Linked DNA regions of Homo sapiens: region 1 is linked to region 2. The links come from fine-mapping of genetic effects on gene expression. Tissue or cell type: fetal neocortex. Region 2 holds a variant in brackets; the other region holds the start of a gene. All regions are shown on one strand. Distances are between the middles of the regions.

Region 1 (8,000 bases), 220 kb after region 2:
CGGGAAGCACAGGCCCAGCCACACACAGCACCTAGGCCCCAGATTCTCCCACGGCCACACCAAGCCACACAGCCTGGCCTCTCTGCCCAGCATCTTCCTCCCTCTTGGTGCCCTCTTGGCTCTCCTTCCTGCAATCTCAGTCCAAGGAAAGATCTAAACATTTCTGCCTCCAAGAGAAGCTGAGTTCCTTCCTGCAGGACTCCTGAGCCTCAGCAAATCAAGTGATGTATGTGTCTGGACACTTGTGTCAGGTCCCTGGAGACTTGACAACAGTTAAGAAGCCCTGGAAAGGCTCTGGAATATTCTGCAACAGTGAGGAGGTGGGTCCATTTAGTTAGGTGAATCTGCCTGGTGTCTCACAGCGGTGTTGCCCCTAACTCAGCCGAAATCCAGGGTTATAGGTTTTGGGTGTGAAATAGGCAGGTTGCCTGGGGGAGAGAAGATCCAAACTGTGAACGAAAGCCTGGCTGGGACTGGAGCTCCTGGGAAGAGGAGGCTGGGGCTCCATGACACCTGGTGGAAGAGGAATTGCCAGCACTTGGTGACTAGTTTGGTATAAAGGTTAGGGAGAAGATTTCCAGGTTGGGAGACCAGGGTAAAGGAGATGTCCTCAGCTGGGATAGAAAATAAAAGGGGACCCGGTTCAAGTGTGATTGTGGAAATGGAAGTGGCTGTGAACGCCTTTTGGGGGCGAAGGGGTAGAGCTGGAAGTTGAGGTCGGGAGCTGAGGAGAGCCGGCCATGCTGAGTAAGAGAAGCCACCGTAGATGTGGCGTCTCTGTCCAGGGCGCAGGGAGAAGGTGACCACGTGGCTCAATGCCAGTTTATACCTGCTGTCTGGAGCCCAGGCTACCTGCACCTGTTGTCCTAGCTGGGTGGGGAGGTGGTTAGTACCGGCTTCCCTCTTAAAAGTCTCCCAGTTAGGATGACACACGGTCACCCTAAAGAGAGACCCTACAGGGTAGGGGAAGAAAAGTGAATCTAAGGCAGCACCCTTCTCATTCACTTGCTTCTTCCGGCCTTTTCGCCCTCCTGTCTCAGACCTTCCATTCCCTTCTTTTCTTTTTTTTTTTTTTTGAGATGGAGTTTCGCTCTGTCACCCAGGCTGGAGTGTAGTGGCACGATCTCGGCTCACTGCAACCTCCGCCTCCCAGGTTCAAGCAATTCTCCTGCCTCAGCTTCCTGAGTAGCTGGGATTACAGATGTACCTGGAGTGGCAGACAAGCACCACCATGCCCGGCTAATTTTTTGCCTGGATAATTTTTGTATTTTTAGTAGAGACAGGGTTTCACCATGTTGGCCAGGCTGGTCTCGAACTCCTGACCTCAAGTGATCCACCTGCCTTGGCCTGCCAAACTGTTGAGATTACAGGTGTGAGCCACCGCGCCTGGCCCATTCCCTTCTTAAGACTCCTATATTTTCACTGTATTTTCTTTTCTTCTCCTGCCAGGCTTCACCTTCCCACTTCCCTGGGAAAGAACCCACCCCACCCCTACAGACTCAGGAGAGCGGAGTCCATCTGGGCTGCCTGAGTCACCGGGGTGAGCAGCTCCTCCCTGGCCAGGGTGAGCGGGCTGGGTTTGGGCCAGGCTGGGGAAGGGCCTCGGTCAAGTTGGTAGGTGGGGGTCCTGCCTTCTGGTCGCAGCGCTGCCTCTTTCTTGCCGTGTGACCTTAGAGCAAAGCATTTCTGCTCTTGGAGTCTCAGTTTTTTCCTCTGCAGCAGTTGAGGATTGAACCACTGATCTAAAACGTCTCTTCTCGCTGAGAAGTGGTGTTCATCTTGTCGGCTGCCATTTCTCATGGGGTTCGAGCCATAAGATGCCAGGTGTCAGTCACCTCAGAAGAGAGGGTTTTGTTTGTATTTGGTGGGGTTCTTCCGGGGGTACCGAGGCTGAGGACTGATGGATCGAGGCGGGTGGATCACTTGAGTTCGGAGTTCGAGACCAGCCTGGCCAACATGGCGAAACCCTGTCTCTACTAAAAATACAAAAATTAGCCAGGTGAAAAATTAGCCGGGCATGGTGGTGCTTGTCTGTAATCCCAGCTACATATGTAATTCCAGCTACTCAGGAAGCTGAGGCAGGAGAATTGCTTGAACCTGCGGGGCGGAGGTTGCAGTGAGCCGAGATCGTGCCACTACACTCCCGTGAGGGAGCAGCCTAGGGACTAAGGCCCGCTGGCTCCGCGAGATCAGCCAGGCCCGCATCATCCCCCAATTACCTGCAGAGGGCGCCGCAGACACAGAGAGGGCGAGGCCGAGGCCGAGGCCATCTAAGCTTCTGGGAAGGGGGTCCCAAAGGGAGGCCCCGAGCTGGAGTCCAGGGGGCTTGGAAGGAAGAGGTGAGGACAGCAGAAAAGGAAACGCAAATTAAAAGAAGGGAACGAAGGCTGGGCGCGGTGGCTTACGCCTGTAAGTCCAGCACTTTGGGAGGCCGAGTCGGGAGGATCGCTTGAGGTCAGGAGTTCAAGACCAGCCTGGCCAACATGGTGAAACGCCGTCTCTACTAAAAATACAAAAAAATTAGCCAGGAGTGGTGGCAGGTGCCTGTCATCCCAGCTACTCCGCAGGCTGAGGTGGGAGGATCGCTTGAGCCCGGGAGGTGGGGGTTGCAGTGAGCCGAGATCGCGCCACTGCACTCCAGGCTGGGTGATAGAGTGAGACCCAGTCTCAAAAAAAGAGAAGGAAAAGAGAGAAGGGATGGTGGCGGTGGGGGAGGAAGGCGGTTCTTGTAATGATCCGAGAGGAGACCGCAGCACCGGTTACGCCCTCGAACCTCGGCCTCCTCATCTGCAGAATGGACGCAGTCCACACCGCGTGCTGTGGAAGGGTTGGAGCGCCGGTTTACATGACACAGGGCTATCGGCTAAGGGGGCGCTGGGAACGTGGAAGGTGCTCTATGGTGGGGCGCTGTAGGGTGCTCTTGGGCAGTAGGGTTGGAGTCAAATCTGGGTTGAAGTCCAACCTAGGTTGAAGTCCTGGCTGCCACCTGACCTCTGCCCCTCAGTTTGCTCATCAGTAAAATGGGGTTAAGGAGGCTGCCTCGCCCAGCTCCACGGAGCCGGAGGTGATGAAGGTCCTGGAAGAGCAGAATTCAGAACCCGAGCTTTGGGCGGCGGAGCAGGACAGGGCGCGGGTGGGCGCGGCCTCCGGGAGGCCAGCACGAGGGGGAGCGGCGGGGCCCGGACACACCCAGCCAGAAGGAGGAGGCCGACCCCGCGCCGACTCCGCAGATGCCGCTCGGGACTTCGTTGTCCCTCCAGGCGCCCGCCCTGGGGTCCTCCATCACCCGCCGTCACCTGGGCGCGGGGAAGCTGGCGGGAGGGGAGGCGGGGCTTGGCGGCAGCGGCGGGTGGGGGCCGGGGAGCGGGGGCAGGGGCGGGCGGACGGAGCGCGGGGCTGGGGACCCGGGGTCCCAGAAGGGGGCGCGGGGACGGGGTCCGAGGAGAGGGGGCCGGGGCGGGGCAGGGCGGACAGGGCTGGGGGCGGAGGTCCGGGGGTGGGTCCGGCGGCGAGTCCGGGTCGGGGCGGACAGAGCAGGGGGCGGGGGTCCGGGAGGAGGGGGCCGGGGTCCGGGAGGAGGGGGCGGGGCCCGGGGGCGGGGCCGGGGTCGGCGCCCTGCGGGGAGGCCGGCCACGTGACGCCCGCGGCCCGGCGGGGCTGCCAGGCGGCGAGCGCCGCGGCGGCCCCGGGAGGTGGCGGCGGGCGCGAGAGCCTGGGCCGCGCGGGACTGACCGTCGGGGCCCCGGGACGGCGGCCCCGGGGCGCCCATGCCATGGAGAAGCTGGCGGCCGGGCTGGCCGGCCTGCGCTGGAGCATGGGCGCCTTCCCGCTCGACCTCATCGTCAGCCGCTGCCGCCTGCCCACGCTCGCCTGCCTTGGGCCAGGTACCGGGGTCGCTGGAGATGGGGACCGGGGTCCGCGGGGAAATGGTGGGCTCTCCAGCCAGGGGCCAGAGGGATCGTGAGGAGGGTGCGGCACCCGCACCCTCCCAGCTCCCCGGCGTGGGCCCCGAGCGGTTCCTGGCGCGCCTCCCGGGAGACGCGGGGCCCACCCGCCAGGTCCGCCTCCTGGGCCCCGCGGACAAGCACAGGCACAGACACCGGGGACAGGGCCCGGGACAGAGTTTTCCCGCCCAGCTGGAGTCCGGAAAGGGGCCGAGCCCCTGCTCCCGCCCCGTCGGTTGCCCCCCTTTCCCCCGCTGCCCCTGGGCCCCCCGCCCCGGCCGCGCCCCCTTGGTCCCTTTGTCCCTGGCCTCTCACCTCTGTCTTCCCTCATCCCTGGGACCCGGACTCTGTCTTCCCCTTACCGCCACCCCTAGTCCTGCTCCGCCCCTCTGGGGACCCTTCTTGCACCTCCTTTCTCTTCCCTAGGAGCAGCCTCGGTCCTGGGGCGGGCAGGCCACCTTCGGGAGAGGCCGGCGGGAGCCGGGTCTGCTGCCCGGCGTGACCCCCAAACTCCCGGCCCTCCCCCGAATCTTGTCCCACTTCTTAATAGGACCTGGGGCCCCCAGCCGCTCGGCTGATGGAACCACGCATGGGGGCCCGAGAGGGTACGCCCGGAGGCTGCATGGAGCGAGGGGACCGTTTGGGGGGAGGGGGGTGCTGCTTGGTTGGGGGATGGGCGGTAGCCGGGGCTGGCAGCCAGGCCGGGGGTTTTGTGTGTGAGAAGAATAGGGGTTTGGCCCGCGTTGGCACACTCGCTTCCATGAATGCTAATGGGGCCCGCGGCCGCAGGCTCCTCGTCTCCCCGTGGGGCCCGGCAGCCCCTCCTCCGTGGCGGCCAGGAGTGGGCACAGTGGGCGTCAGCTGTCCCGGGAGCAGGCTCATGGGGGAGCATCGGCGCCCCGCCGTCGGGCAGGCCAGCGTCTAGTTCTCTGGCTCGCGGCCGAGTGGTCAGAGTGTGGTACTGTGTCTGCCTGTGAATGGAGGTCGCTGCCCTGGGGTCTTCTGGCCACTTCCCACACATCCTTTTTGGCATCTCCCCTTTCTGGGCAGCTTTTCTGAGCTCCTCGGTCTGCGTAGGGCCTCCTTTGGGCTCCCCGGCCACCTCATGCCAACTCTGGCTTGTCTCCTACTGTGCACCCCATTATAATGGTCAGTCAGTTTATTGTCTTTAGACCTGGCTGTGGGCTCCTTGAGACCAGGCATCCTTGCCCAATAAAGATTATGGATTGAATGAATGGGTGAGTGAATGAACAACTGGTGTGATGGCCCAGCTGTCTGTTGTGTGTGACAGTGTGTGGCTATGGCTGGGTCACCATCAGGGTGTGAATGTCTGGTCAGAATTGTATGGCTTGAAGGGTAGGTCCCTGTGTGCCTGTGCATTTGGGAGGGGCCCCTTGGCCGGAGACTGAGTTATGTTGTTTGGGTGACAAGCATCTGTCACTGTGGGCTATTGTGGTTCAGCTGTTGGTGGTCATGAGCCATGATTACTGCTGTGTGCCCATGTGGCTGTGAAGATGGGGCTAGGACCCAGGACAGCTCTCAGAGGAGGGAGCAGAGTTGGAGGAGAGCTTCTTGGGCCCCCGGAGGTGAGGAGGTACAGGGGAAAGCTTAGACAACACCCCCAACACACACATAGTGGGGGCCAGGCCCTTCCTGTGCGTCTTGAACCGCCCGCCACCCTGCCACACACACACACACACATACACACACACGCCTACCCCACATGTACACATTTTATGGAGCCCCCAGCCATCAGAGTAAACCATTTCCCATTTGATTGGCAGAAATTTTGTAAGTTGTGCCTGAAGGAGAAAGGAAGGAGGTACTCCCTACCCCCACCCTCCCCACCAGCTGCAGCCCGGACACAGCCCCTTCTGCCTCCTGGAAGCTGGGCTGCCCCTCCTGCTCCCCTGGAAACCGTTGCTGGGGTTGGCGCCTCCAGGCCCAGACCCCTCCCAACTCCCAACACCTCTGCCCCAGAGCAGCTTCCCCCAGGCCCCAGGGCTGGGCCTCCCACTCCTGCCTTCTAAACCTGCTCTCTCAACCCCTCCAACCCTCAGCCGTCACCCCTGTAACTGGGAGGATGAGGGGGCGTGGGGAGGGGGTGTCAAGGAGCTGCTTCTCTGAGATGGGGTTGGGGGTTTCTGGGGACTCCCCCCTCTCCTTCGAGGTCCCCTTGACAAGGCAGTGGGTGGCTTCTCTGAGATGGGGTTGGGGGTTTCTGGGGACTCCCCCCCTCTCCTTCGAGGTCCCCTGAACAAGGCAGTGGGTGGAAAGGAAGGGCTGCCCTTGGGAGAGGCAGTAATCAGCTGCTCTAAGCCCTGTCATTCTCCTGACCTGAGCGACCCGTGGCTCTGGGGGAGCTCTCACAGCTGGGACCTTATAAGGGACAGTCCCGTCCGGGCCCTCTCCACTGCCCCAGTAGGGCCCTTCTTGCAGGGCCTAGGCCCTGACTGGGAAGCACAGCTCCAGCATCTCCTGCTCAATAAAGTCTCCCTTCGCCACCACACCCCCAGCTGGAGCCTACTGCTGCCCTCCGGGTCCCCAGACATACTCCAGTCAGTGCCTCAAACTTGCCTAGTCTCTGGTACATCTCTGCCCACCTCCCCAGGGGCCTAAGGGCTCCTGGAGGGCAGGGGCTGGTCTGGGCTCATCCATGGGGAGCTCCCCCTGCTCCAGCTCAGAGCCAGGGACAGCAGGCATTCCAGCCACTGATGAACGAGGGGCCCCGTCGGGAGTCACAGCCCTGAGAGGCTCACAGCCAGCCCCACAGCCCCAGGCCCCAGCTGGCAGCCCGCCTGTCCCTTGAGCTTTGCTGACCTGGACAGGGATTGTGTGGAGCTGTCCCTCAGGGGGGCGGTCTTGGTGAGGACGTCACTATCTGTTCTTTCTGCCCCTTCTAATGTCCTGTCTTCCTTCCCCTCATCCTCTGTCCTCCTCCCCCTTCCCAGGGGAGTACGCCGAGGGCGTCAGTGAGCGAGACATCCTGCTCATCCACTCCTGCCGGCAGTGGACAACGGTGACAGCTCATACCCTGGAGGAGGGCCACTATGTCATCGGGCCCAAGATCGACATCCCCCTGCAGTACCCAGGTGTGTCCAGCCAGGACAGATGTCATAAAGCCTGTAGGGGGGTGTAGGCAGGAGGGACTGGGGCCAGGGGTAGGGGGAACGCTGGGACTAGCGAGGCGGTGATTAGGGTTAGGGTTGGAGTCAGAGCCCAGCAGTTTTCATTCTGTTCTGTGGCACTCTGGGTTTCTGGAGAGGTGGCTCACAGGTTTTTTGATTCACATTTTATTTTAAAGTAGATTTGAAACTAATGATTAAAAAATACCCACACTCTTAAATTACTACACATCAGAGCTTAACCCTAATCAGAGGCCTTCAGGGTATACCTTCGGCTGCCACGCTTAGCCATCTTTGTGCAGACCCTCCAAGAGAACATGTCCTGCCAGGACCTTTTCTGTACCGCGCAACCAAATACCGCAGAAACCAGCGAATGCCCAAGCTGGTTACATGGCTGCACCTCTCCGCGCTGATCCTGTTTTTCCCAATTTTTGCGTTAAACCTATTGTTTCCATTGGTTGACTTTATAAGTGAATATTAAAAATTTTAGACTTCTAAAGATTATGCTAATGGACTACCTTTATTAGTTTTATACGTGACGTTGACATATAATAAGATTTTGTTTGAAGAAAGGATTCTGTTACCAAAACAGAGTACAGCCCCTTCCTTTTACAGATGATGAAACGGAAGGCTTGGGGGAGGAGGTGACTTGCCCCGTGTCACACATCTAGGAAAGGAAGAGCCTGGCCAGATCCAGGTATCTCAACTGAGGGCTGGTGTCTGCTGCACTACACCAGGAGCGTGTGGTTGCTGTCCCCTGTGTGGGAGGGATGGGAGTCTGGTGGCCCCATCCCAGAGACGTCCCCGTGTGAGCCCCGGATCCCACATCTGCCATGTGTTAAGCATGTGCTGCATGCCATATGCTGGGCCGAACATTTTTGCCATTTCATCCTCATGGCAACCTGATGAGAAAGTCTTGTCAACTCCATTT
Region 2 (8,260 bases):
TGAGGCAGGAGGATCACTTGAGCCCAGGAGCCCGAAGCTGCAGTGAGTTATATACTCCAGCCTGGGTGACAGAGTGAGACTCAAGAAAAAAGAAAGCAAGAAAGCAAGCAAGGAAGTAAGGAAGAAAATAAAGAAAGGGAGAAAGAGAAAGAAAGAAAGAGAAAGAGAAAGAGAGAAAGAGAGAGAGAAAGAGAAAGAGAGAAAGAGAAAGAGAGAAAGAGAGAGAGAAAGAAAGAAAGGAAGGAAAGAAGGAAGGAAGGAAGGGAAAGAAAGAAGAAAGGGAAGGAATGAAGGGAGGGAGGGAGGGAGGGAAGGAAATTCATAATCATTATGCAGAAAGCTCATTCGAACTTCAGGTAAAGCACCTGCCACACTTTGAGTCTGGATCATGTGCTTGAGGCAGTCAAGTCAAAATTGCAGAGTGTTTTGAGAAATGAATAAATTCCTCTGAAGCAAGAAACTGCTAAACTCAAGTCAAAATCCCTTCTCAGTTCCACATTAAAGGAGACCAAAGAGTCATGACAATTAAATGAAATGCATGACTGCAGGTGGGGAGGGAGGGAAATCATCATAAAGGACATTGGCAAATTTTAATATTGCCTATATAATAATATTGTGACAATACAAAATTTCCTGAGTTTGATCATTGCACTGTGGAACACGAATGTTCTCATTTTTCGGAAGTACAGGTAAAAGGTCAAAATGTCTGCAACTTAATCTCAAGTGGTTGGGGGAAAGTTAAAGCAAGATATGGCAAAATGTTAATAATCTGGTGAAGGGTATACGAGAATTCTTTATACTATTCTTGCAATTCTTGTTTTCAAAATAAAAAGCTGACGTGGCCAGGCGCAGTGGCTCACGCCTGTAATCCTAGAACTTTGAGAGGACAAGGCAGGCAGATCGCTTCAGCCCAGGAGCTCGAGATCAGCCTGGGTAACATGGCAAAACCCTGTCTCTACAAAAAATACCAAAAAAAAAGAAAAAAAAATTAGCTGGGAGGAGGACCACATGAGCCTGGGGAGGCTGAGGTTGCAGTGAGCTGTGATTACACCACTGCACTCCAGCCAGGGTGACAGAGTGAGACCCTGTCTCAAACAACAACAACAACAAAAGTTAATGCACACCTTCTCAAAGCCTCTCCCATCCCACAACTAGTTGAGCACATTGGTGGCACTACTACATCCAATGTAAAGAAATTCCTTCACCTGCAAACTTTAAACTCAAGAACTTTTCTAAGGACTGGTGCAGTGGCTCATGCCTATAATTCCAGCATTTTGGGAGGCTGAGGCAGGTGGATCACTTGAGCTCAGGAGTTCAAGACCAGCCTGGCCAACATGGTGAAACCCCGTCTCTACTAAAAATACAAAAAATTAGCCAGGCGTGGTAGCATGCACCTGCAATCCCAGCTACTGGGGAGGCTGAGGCTCGAGAATCGTTTGAACCCAGGAAGCGGAGGTTGCAGTGAGCCAAGATCACACCACTGCACTCCAGCCTGGGCGAAAGAGCAAGTTTCACTGCAACCTCTGCCTCCTGGGTTCAAGTGATTCTCTTGCCTCAGCTTCCCCAGGAGCTGAGACTGCAGGTGCATGCCACCACACCCGGCTAATTTTTTGTATTTTTAGTAGAGACGGGGTTTCACCACGTTGGCCAGGCTGGTCTCAAACTCCTGACGCCAAGTGATCCACCCGCCTCGGCCTCCCAAAATGCTGGGATTACAGGATTACAGGCATGAGCCACCATGCCCAGCAGAAAGACCTTTTCTTTTCTTTTCTTTTTTTTTTTTGAGACGGAGTCTTGCTCTTGTTGCCCAGGCTGGAGCGCAATGGAGTGATCTTGGCTCACTGCAACCTCCACCTCCCGAGTTCAAGAGATTCTCCTGCCTCAGCCTCCCTAGTAGCTAGGATTACAGGCGCCTGCCACCACGCCCAGCTAATTTTTTTTTGTATTTTTAGTAGAGATGGGGTTTCACTATGTTGGTCAGGCTGGTCTCAAATTCCTGACCTCAGGCCATCCACCTGCCTCAGCCTCCCAAAGTGCTGAGATTACAGACTTGAGCCACCACGCCCAGCTAGAAAGAACTTTTCTAAGCATAAGATAACCCTTCAGAGTGAAGCCTCGCCAGCATCCAACTCCAGCAAATGTCATTGGAGCAGTGGTTTTCTAGCCTGGCTTCAAATGCAGAATCACAAAACCTAAGACCTGGGACCCTTTAAATCAGACTCTCTGCAGGTATTCTAGCTCCAGCCAGGGTGGAAAACCTCTATGACAGCTGATGTACTATTGAGAATCTCTACCTAGATTGGAAAGGTGGATTGTAGGTGCAAAGTAATACCATTGAAAAGTCCTCTATTCACGTGCTTGCCACTTACAAACTTATGTGGTATCACCTTAAGTAAAATCAGCCTTTAAGAAAGATCAAATAGGCATCTAAGCTATAGTTGTTAAAAAAAAAAAAAAGAAGAAGAAAAGAAAAGGAAGAAAGGAAAAAAAAAATAACCAAGTAGGCATCTGATGCTTCAGTGAGAAGCTGTAGACCTCTTGCTAGCTTCCCATCCCAGATTTAGGGAGACTCTTGCCCTATTTTAACATTAATATTCTAGAGAGAGCAAATAATCTCCAGGAAGGTGCATTGGTGTCCAGCCTCCTAAGCACCTCTCTCTATATATTTGCAATTAAGGGCCCATGGTTCAGCCGGGCAAGGCCTCACTCTGTTGGGATGTTCTTCATGGCCACCAGCAGAGGGAGCCACACACCCAGCCAATGGCCGCAGCTGCACCCAAGGACTAGGACATGGAAACAGGTGGAAATGCTGAAATCACCCGGATGAGCGAGCGCACTGAGATTGGATCACAGCTCTATCACATCATGATCTGATTACTTATTTCCCACTGGACTGTGAGCTCGGACCATGTCTAATTTATCTTCTGTCTCCTGAGTCTTGCACAGCATCCGGCACACAGTAGCGCTTGGCAAATATTAACTGTGGTTGCTATTTCGGGCATCTGACAAATGAATATTCACCAGACCTGGCCAGATGTTAGCATTCGCTAGGATTGTCAAGAGGCTGAGATGCTCTTCCTCCCTCCCGAGATCCCTCACAAGGTATTTTCTGCATCCCAGGCCAATGAGACACTTTTTTTCCCAGAACACCCTTCCATCATAGAGACCCCTACAATTAGATCCTGAGAAATTCATCCCCCATCGGCATCCTCCCCATCTTTTCCCCAATCCACAAAACATCTGTCTCCCTGCAGGCAAGGCCTCAGGCCCCTCACCAGCCCCGACCTGGAGTGGACCCACAAGTCCCCCAGCCCAGACAGCTGGGTTAGAGACTCACACGCCGGCTGGCACCAGTGGCTGGAACTTCCACTGCTCCTCCTCACAGTCCAGGAAAAGCCGGTTCATGATCTTGTTCTTCTCCTCCGGCGGGATGAAGTTCTCGATGATTAGGTACCTGGGAGCAGGAATGAAGGAGTGATGGGAAAATGGGTGAGCGAGAGACCACGTGGTGCATGTGAGGGTTGAAGGATTAGAAGCAACAAGCCAAGAGGCAGAGGGGGCTGGGCACGGTGGCTCACGCCTGTAATCCCAGCACTTTGGGAGACCAAGGCGGGCGGATCACGAGGTCAGGAGATCAAGACCATCCTGGCTAACACAGTGAAACACCATTTCCGTCTCTACTAAAAATACAAAAAAAAATTAGCTGGGCGTGGTGGTGGGTGCCTGTAGTCCCAAGCTACTCAGGAGGCTGAGGCAGGAGAATGGCATGAACCTGGGAGGCAGAGCTTGCAGTAAGCTTAGATCACACCACTGCACTCCAGCCTGGGCGACAGAGTGAGACTCCGTCTCAAAAAAAAATAAGTTAATTAATTATTTATTTATTTTAAAAAAAGAGGCAGAGGCAATGTGGAGGTGGGGAAAATCAAGAAGTTAAGGGGAAAGGATCCCTACAGAAATACTGCAGCTTGAAAAATCACTGCTTCTAACAGGTACACAAAATTAGAAAAATGAATAAATACTTTTATTTGATAGCACAATAGGGTGACTATAGTCAATAACTTAATTGTATATATATGTGTGTGTGTGTGTGTGTGTGTGTATATATATATATATTTTTTTTTTTTTGAGACAGTTTTGCACTTGTTGCTCAGGCTGGAGTGCAATGGCACGATCTCAGCTCACTGCAACCTCCACCTCCTGGGTTCAAGTGATTCTCCTGCCTCAGCCTCCTGAGTAGCTGGGATTACAGGCACATGCCACCATGCCTGGCTAATTTTTGTATTTTTAGTAGAGATGGGGTTTCACCACGTTGGCCAGGCTGGTCTCAAACTCCCGACCTCAGGTGATCCACCTGCCTCAGCCTCCCAAAGTGCTGGGATTACAGGTATAAGCCAGCAAATTGTATATTTTAAAATAACTTAAAGAGTGTAACTGGATTATTGTAACTTGAAGGATAAATGTTTGAGGGGATGGATACCCCATTCTCCATGATGTGCTTAGTTCACATTGCACACCTGTATCAAAACATCTCATGTGGCCAGGCGAGGTGGCTCATGCCTGTAATCCCAGCCCTTTGGGAGGCCGAGGAGGACGGATCACCTGAGGTCAGGAGTTTGAGACCACCCTGGCCAACATGGCGAAACTCCATCTCTACTAAAAATGCAAACATTAGTCAGGTGTGGTGGTGGGCGCCTGTAGTCCCAGCTACTCAGGAGGCTGAGGCAGGAGGACCGCTTGAACTTGGGAGGTGGAGGCTGCAGTGAGCCAAGACTGCACCACTGCACTCCAGGGTGGATGATAGAGCAATATTCCATCTCCAAAAAAAAAAAATCTAATGTATCCCATCAATATTAATATATGCAACTACTATATACACACATTTTTTAAAATAATTTTTAAAACAAATTTAAAAATAATTTTTTTTTTTGAGACAGAGTCTTGCTCTGTCGCCCAGGCTGGAGTGCAGTGGCTCCATCTCAGCTCACTGCAAGCTCTGCCTCCCAGGTTCACACCATTCTCCTGCCTCAGCCTCCCAAGTAGCTGGGACTACAGGCGC[C/T]CGCCACCACTCTCGGCTAATTTTTTATATTTTTAGTAGAGGCGGAGTTTCTCCGTGTTAGCCAGGATAGTCTCGATCTCCTGACCTCGTGATCCACCTGCCTCAGCCTCCCAAAGTGCTGGGATTACAGGCATGAGCCACTGCGCCCGGCCTTTTTTGTTTTTGTTTTTTTTTTTTTTTTGAGACGTTGTCTCGCTCTGTCGCCCAGGCTGGATTGCAGTGGCATGATCTCGGCTCACTGCCACCTCCACCTCCCAGGTTCAAGCAATTCTGCCTCAGCCTCCTGAGTAGCTGGGATTACAAGTGCGCGCCACCATGCCCGGCTAATTTTTGTATTTTTAGTAGAGATGGGGTTTCACCATGTTGATCAGGCTGGTCTCAAACTCCTGACCTCAGGTGATCCACCTGCCTCGGCTCCCAAAGTGCTGGGATTACAGGCATGAGCCACTGCGCCCGGCCCTAAAAATAATTTTTAAAAAATTTAAAATCACTGATTCTTATGCAAAGATGGTAGCCTCAGGGCCTTCGGAGTTACTTTTGGCCAGCACCTAGCGTCCATTTTGAGGGGTTCATCAAATACAGGCAGAGGAGGTAGAAGAAACTCCAGCACGTGGGCCCATCCCTCAGCCCTCAGACGCATTTTATTCCTAAAGGACTCATGGGAGAGGAGACAGTCAGGATGAGGCCTTAGGGGAGGAGAGGCCTGAGTAATGATGGCTGGCTGTGGGGACCCGGGATGAAAAGAGCTGCGGGCCCTACTTGAGCTTGAGTTCGCGGGTCTGCTCGTTCTGCGCCTCCTCCAGGTCCTGCCGCACGCGGATATACTCATCATGCTGGTCCTGGATCTCCGCCTTCACCGCCTGCAGCTTGGCGTAGAGCTGGGTGGGGACAGGTGCCACTCAGAGGCTGCTTGGTGTGGCAACGAGGCCCCAGTCACCCAGCCTGGGCCGCAGGGCTGCAGGCTCAGAGTCTACCGACTCAGCCCAGGATGAGGCTGCGGGTCCTTTTCTGAACTCCCCGCTGTGCCCAACCCACCACGAATTGGGCTGGGCTATTTAAAGTGGTGCCCCGCCCTCCTTCACTGAGGCCTGTGACCATTGTCTGCTCTTTCTCAGCTGCTATCAGCATCGTGGAATGTTCAAACGGGAGGGGACCCCAGGGACCTTTTGGTCCAATACCCTCCTTTCATAGATGAGGAAGCCAGGCACAGACTTGCTCAAGGTCACACAACCAGCCAATAGAAGAGCCGGAACTAGGACCCGGGGCTTATTTGGAGACCCAGCTCAGGAAGCAGGAAGCCTGAACGAGTTTGGAAGGTGACCCCTCCCACTCCAGTCTCTTCAGGGGCTCTCAAAAGTGGGGTGTGGAGGTAGCATGGCCATCCTGCTCCTCTCCAAAGCCACTGAGGGCTGGGTCCGTGGTAACTGCCACAGTGGCAGTGCCTCTGCCAGGCCTGCCCCTGGGCAGCCACATCACCCACCCCGAAGGGCCTCCAGGTTTTTCCCAGAATCCAAGCTAGAGCTTTGCTGCTTCCTGCCCTAGACCCCCCTCACATGTACATGTCTTTCCCTTGCCACGGGCTTTGCAGGGTTCTGGTGAGCGGCTATTCTCATCCCTTGACATGTCCTTGAGGGCCTTACACTCCCCACCTGAGCTTCCCGGGGTTCCAGTCTCCTCCTCAGCCTCTCTGTATTCCCCTGGCCCTGCTCCAGGCCCAGCTATCCCAACTGTGACTCACTGGTGACACTGAACGGGGTAATCACCCAGGACCATGAAGATGGTAACGCTGGATACTGCAAGTGACAGAGTTTGCAGCCTGTCATAGCCCACCCTGGCCCAGGAGAAAAGGCTCTACTCCACCCCCAGCCCCCGCCTCCTGCCTCCCCCTGTTGCTCACCCCCGAGGCCAAGCCATGTCACTCAGGGGTTCAGCAGTTCCAGCCAAATGGGGAGGAGTCCCTGAAGCACACATCCCTTGGGCAGAGACTGCTGGGCCTCCAGCACACCTTAACCGGTCCTGCTGCAGCGTCTCACCTTCTTGAGTTTCTTGGTTTTGACCTCCACCTCCTGCTGCAGGGATGTGTAGGTGCCCCGGAGCTCCATAGTCTCCTCGTCCCGGAGCATCATCTCCTGCTGCATCTCCCGCTCACGACGTTTCTAGGCCAAGGACGGGCAGTGTGGCTCAAAGGAGCAGTGCATACTCGGGAGGGCCAGGAAAGCTCAGGGGACTGGCTCACTCTGCCTGTCTCGGGACCTGGCTTCACCATGGCCCATGGCCCACATCCACTGCTCCCACCCAATCCTGCAGAGCCCCTGGGAACCCTCCTCTCAGTTCCCAGGGCCATGCCTTTGCCAGGCTCTGCCCCATGTGGATGGAGACCCCAGCCCCTAAGAGCTGGCCTACTCCAGAGGCGTTAGTCACACAGATGGAGGCACATCACACTGCCTTCCAAGCTGCCTCACCCTCTCCCCAAGTAGTATAATGGTTGATTGGTAAGACCAACAAACTGTGGCTCTTGATGATTTAGGGAAACAGTCATACAGTTGGCAAAGAACTCACACCACCTTGTGGAAGGCCCAGGAATTAGTACCAGGTGGCTTGTGGAGGCTGATGTTATGGAGAGCTATCACGTCCTCTCGCCCACCAGCTAGCAGTGCCCCTGCCAAAGGGAAGACCCTGGGCTAGTAGACCTGTGGGACCCAGGGTGGCATGTCTGAGATTCTCAGCACTGTAATTCCAGAGATCCAGAGTCCACCATGGTTTACGGCCCTGCACCTCCCAGACATGAGCTGCAGGCCACACTCTCCAAGGGGACCTGGCACCTGGAGGCCCTACCTGCTCGGCAATCTCCTGCCTCTTCAGTTCCAACATCTTCTGCTGTTCGTTGGTGTGATCCATGATGTTCCTGCCCCCGATGAGGAGCTTGCTCTCCATGGCCTGGGGACACAGAGGGGTTGGGAGGTGGGCTTTGCAAAGGGTCCACAACATTGCTAGCTGGAGAGATTTTGCTTCCCTGCTCTGTGGTCCTTCTGGGAGTGGACACCAGATGTGTCCCAGATGGGGCCTTGTGGCTTTCAGGGAGAATGGAGTTTTCCCCTCTAGTGTCTCAGGTCCCAGCACAAGGCTCTTATTGTCAGCAGGAACACTAGGGAGGCACAGAGGGTGCCCCTCGGGGAATCTAGGGCAACTGGTCTGTTTGCTTTG

Alleles and levels. Alleles are on the strand shown, and positions count from the first base shown. SD is a standard deviation of normalised expression in the study named.
With allele T in place of C in region 2, the expression in fetal neocortex of the gene that starts at base 3,640 in region 1 is lower (small effect, 0.31 SD a copy in Walker 2019).

The links. PIP is the estimated chance that this variant, and not a neighbour inherited with it, causes the effect.
Region 1: GAREM2 starts here. The variant in region 2 is fine-mapped to the expression of GAREM2 in fetal neocortex (Walker 2019, PIP 0.95).

Annotation. Positions count from the first base shown.
Region 1 is chr2:26,169,449-26,177,448 of GRCh38, forward strand. GAREM2 (GRB2 associated regulator of MAPK1 subtype 2) reads left to right here and starts at 3,640. Exons shown (of 6, transcript NM_001168241.2): 1 at 3,640-3,884; 2 at 6,896-7,036. The coding sequence starts at 3,773. RefSeq lists an enhancer at 6,102-6,640.
Region 2 is chr2:25,948,452-25,956,711 of GRCh38, forward strand. KIF3C (kinesin family member 3C) reads right to left here. Exons shown (of 8, transcript NM_002254.8): 2 at 7,892-7,993; 3 at 7,090-7,212; 4 at 5,816-5,934; 5 at 3,338-3,454. Among named protein-coding and RNA genes, the nearest start is that of KIF3C, 30 kb to the right of the region's middle. The variant C/T (reference allele first, on the strand shown) is at 5,057.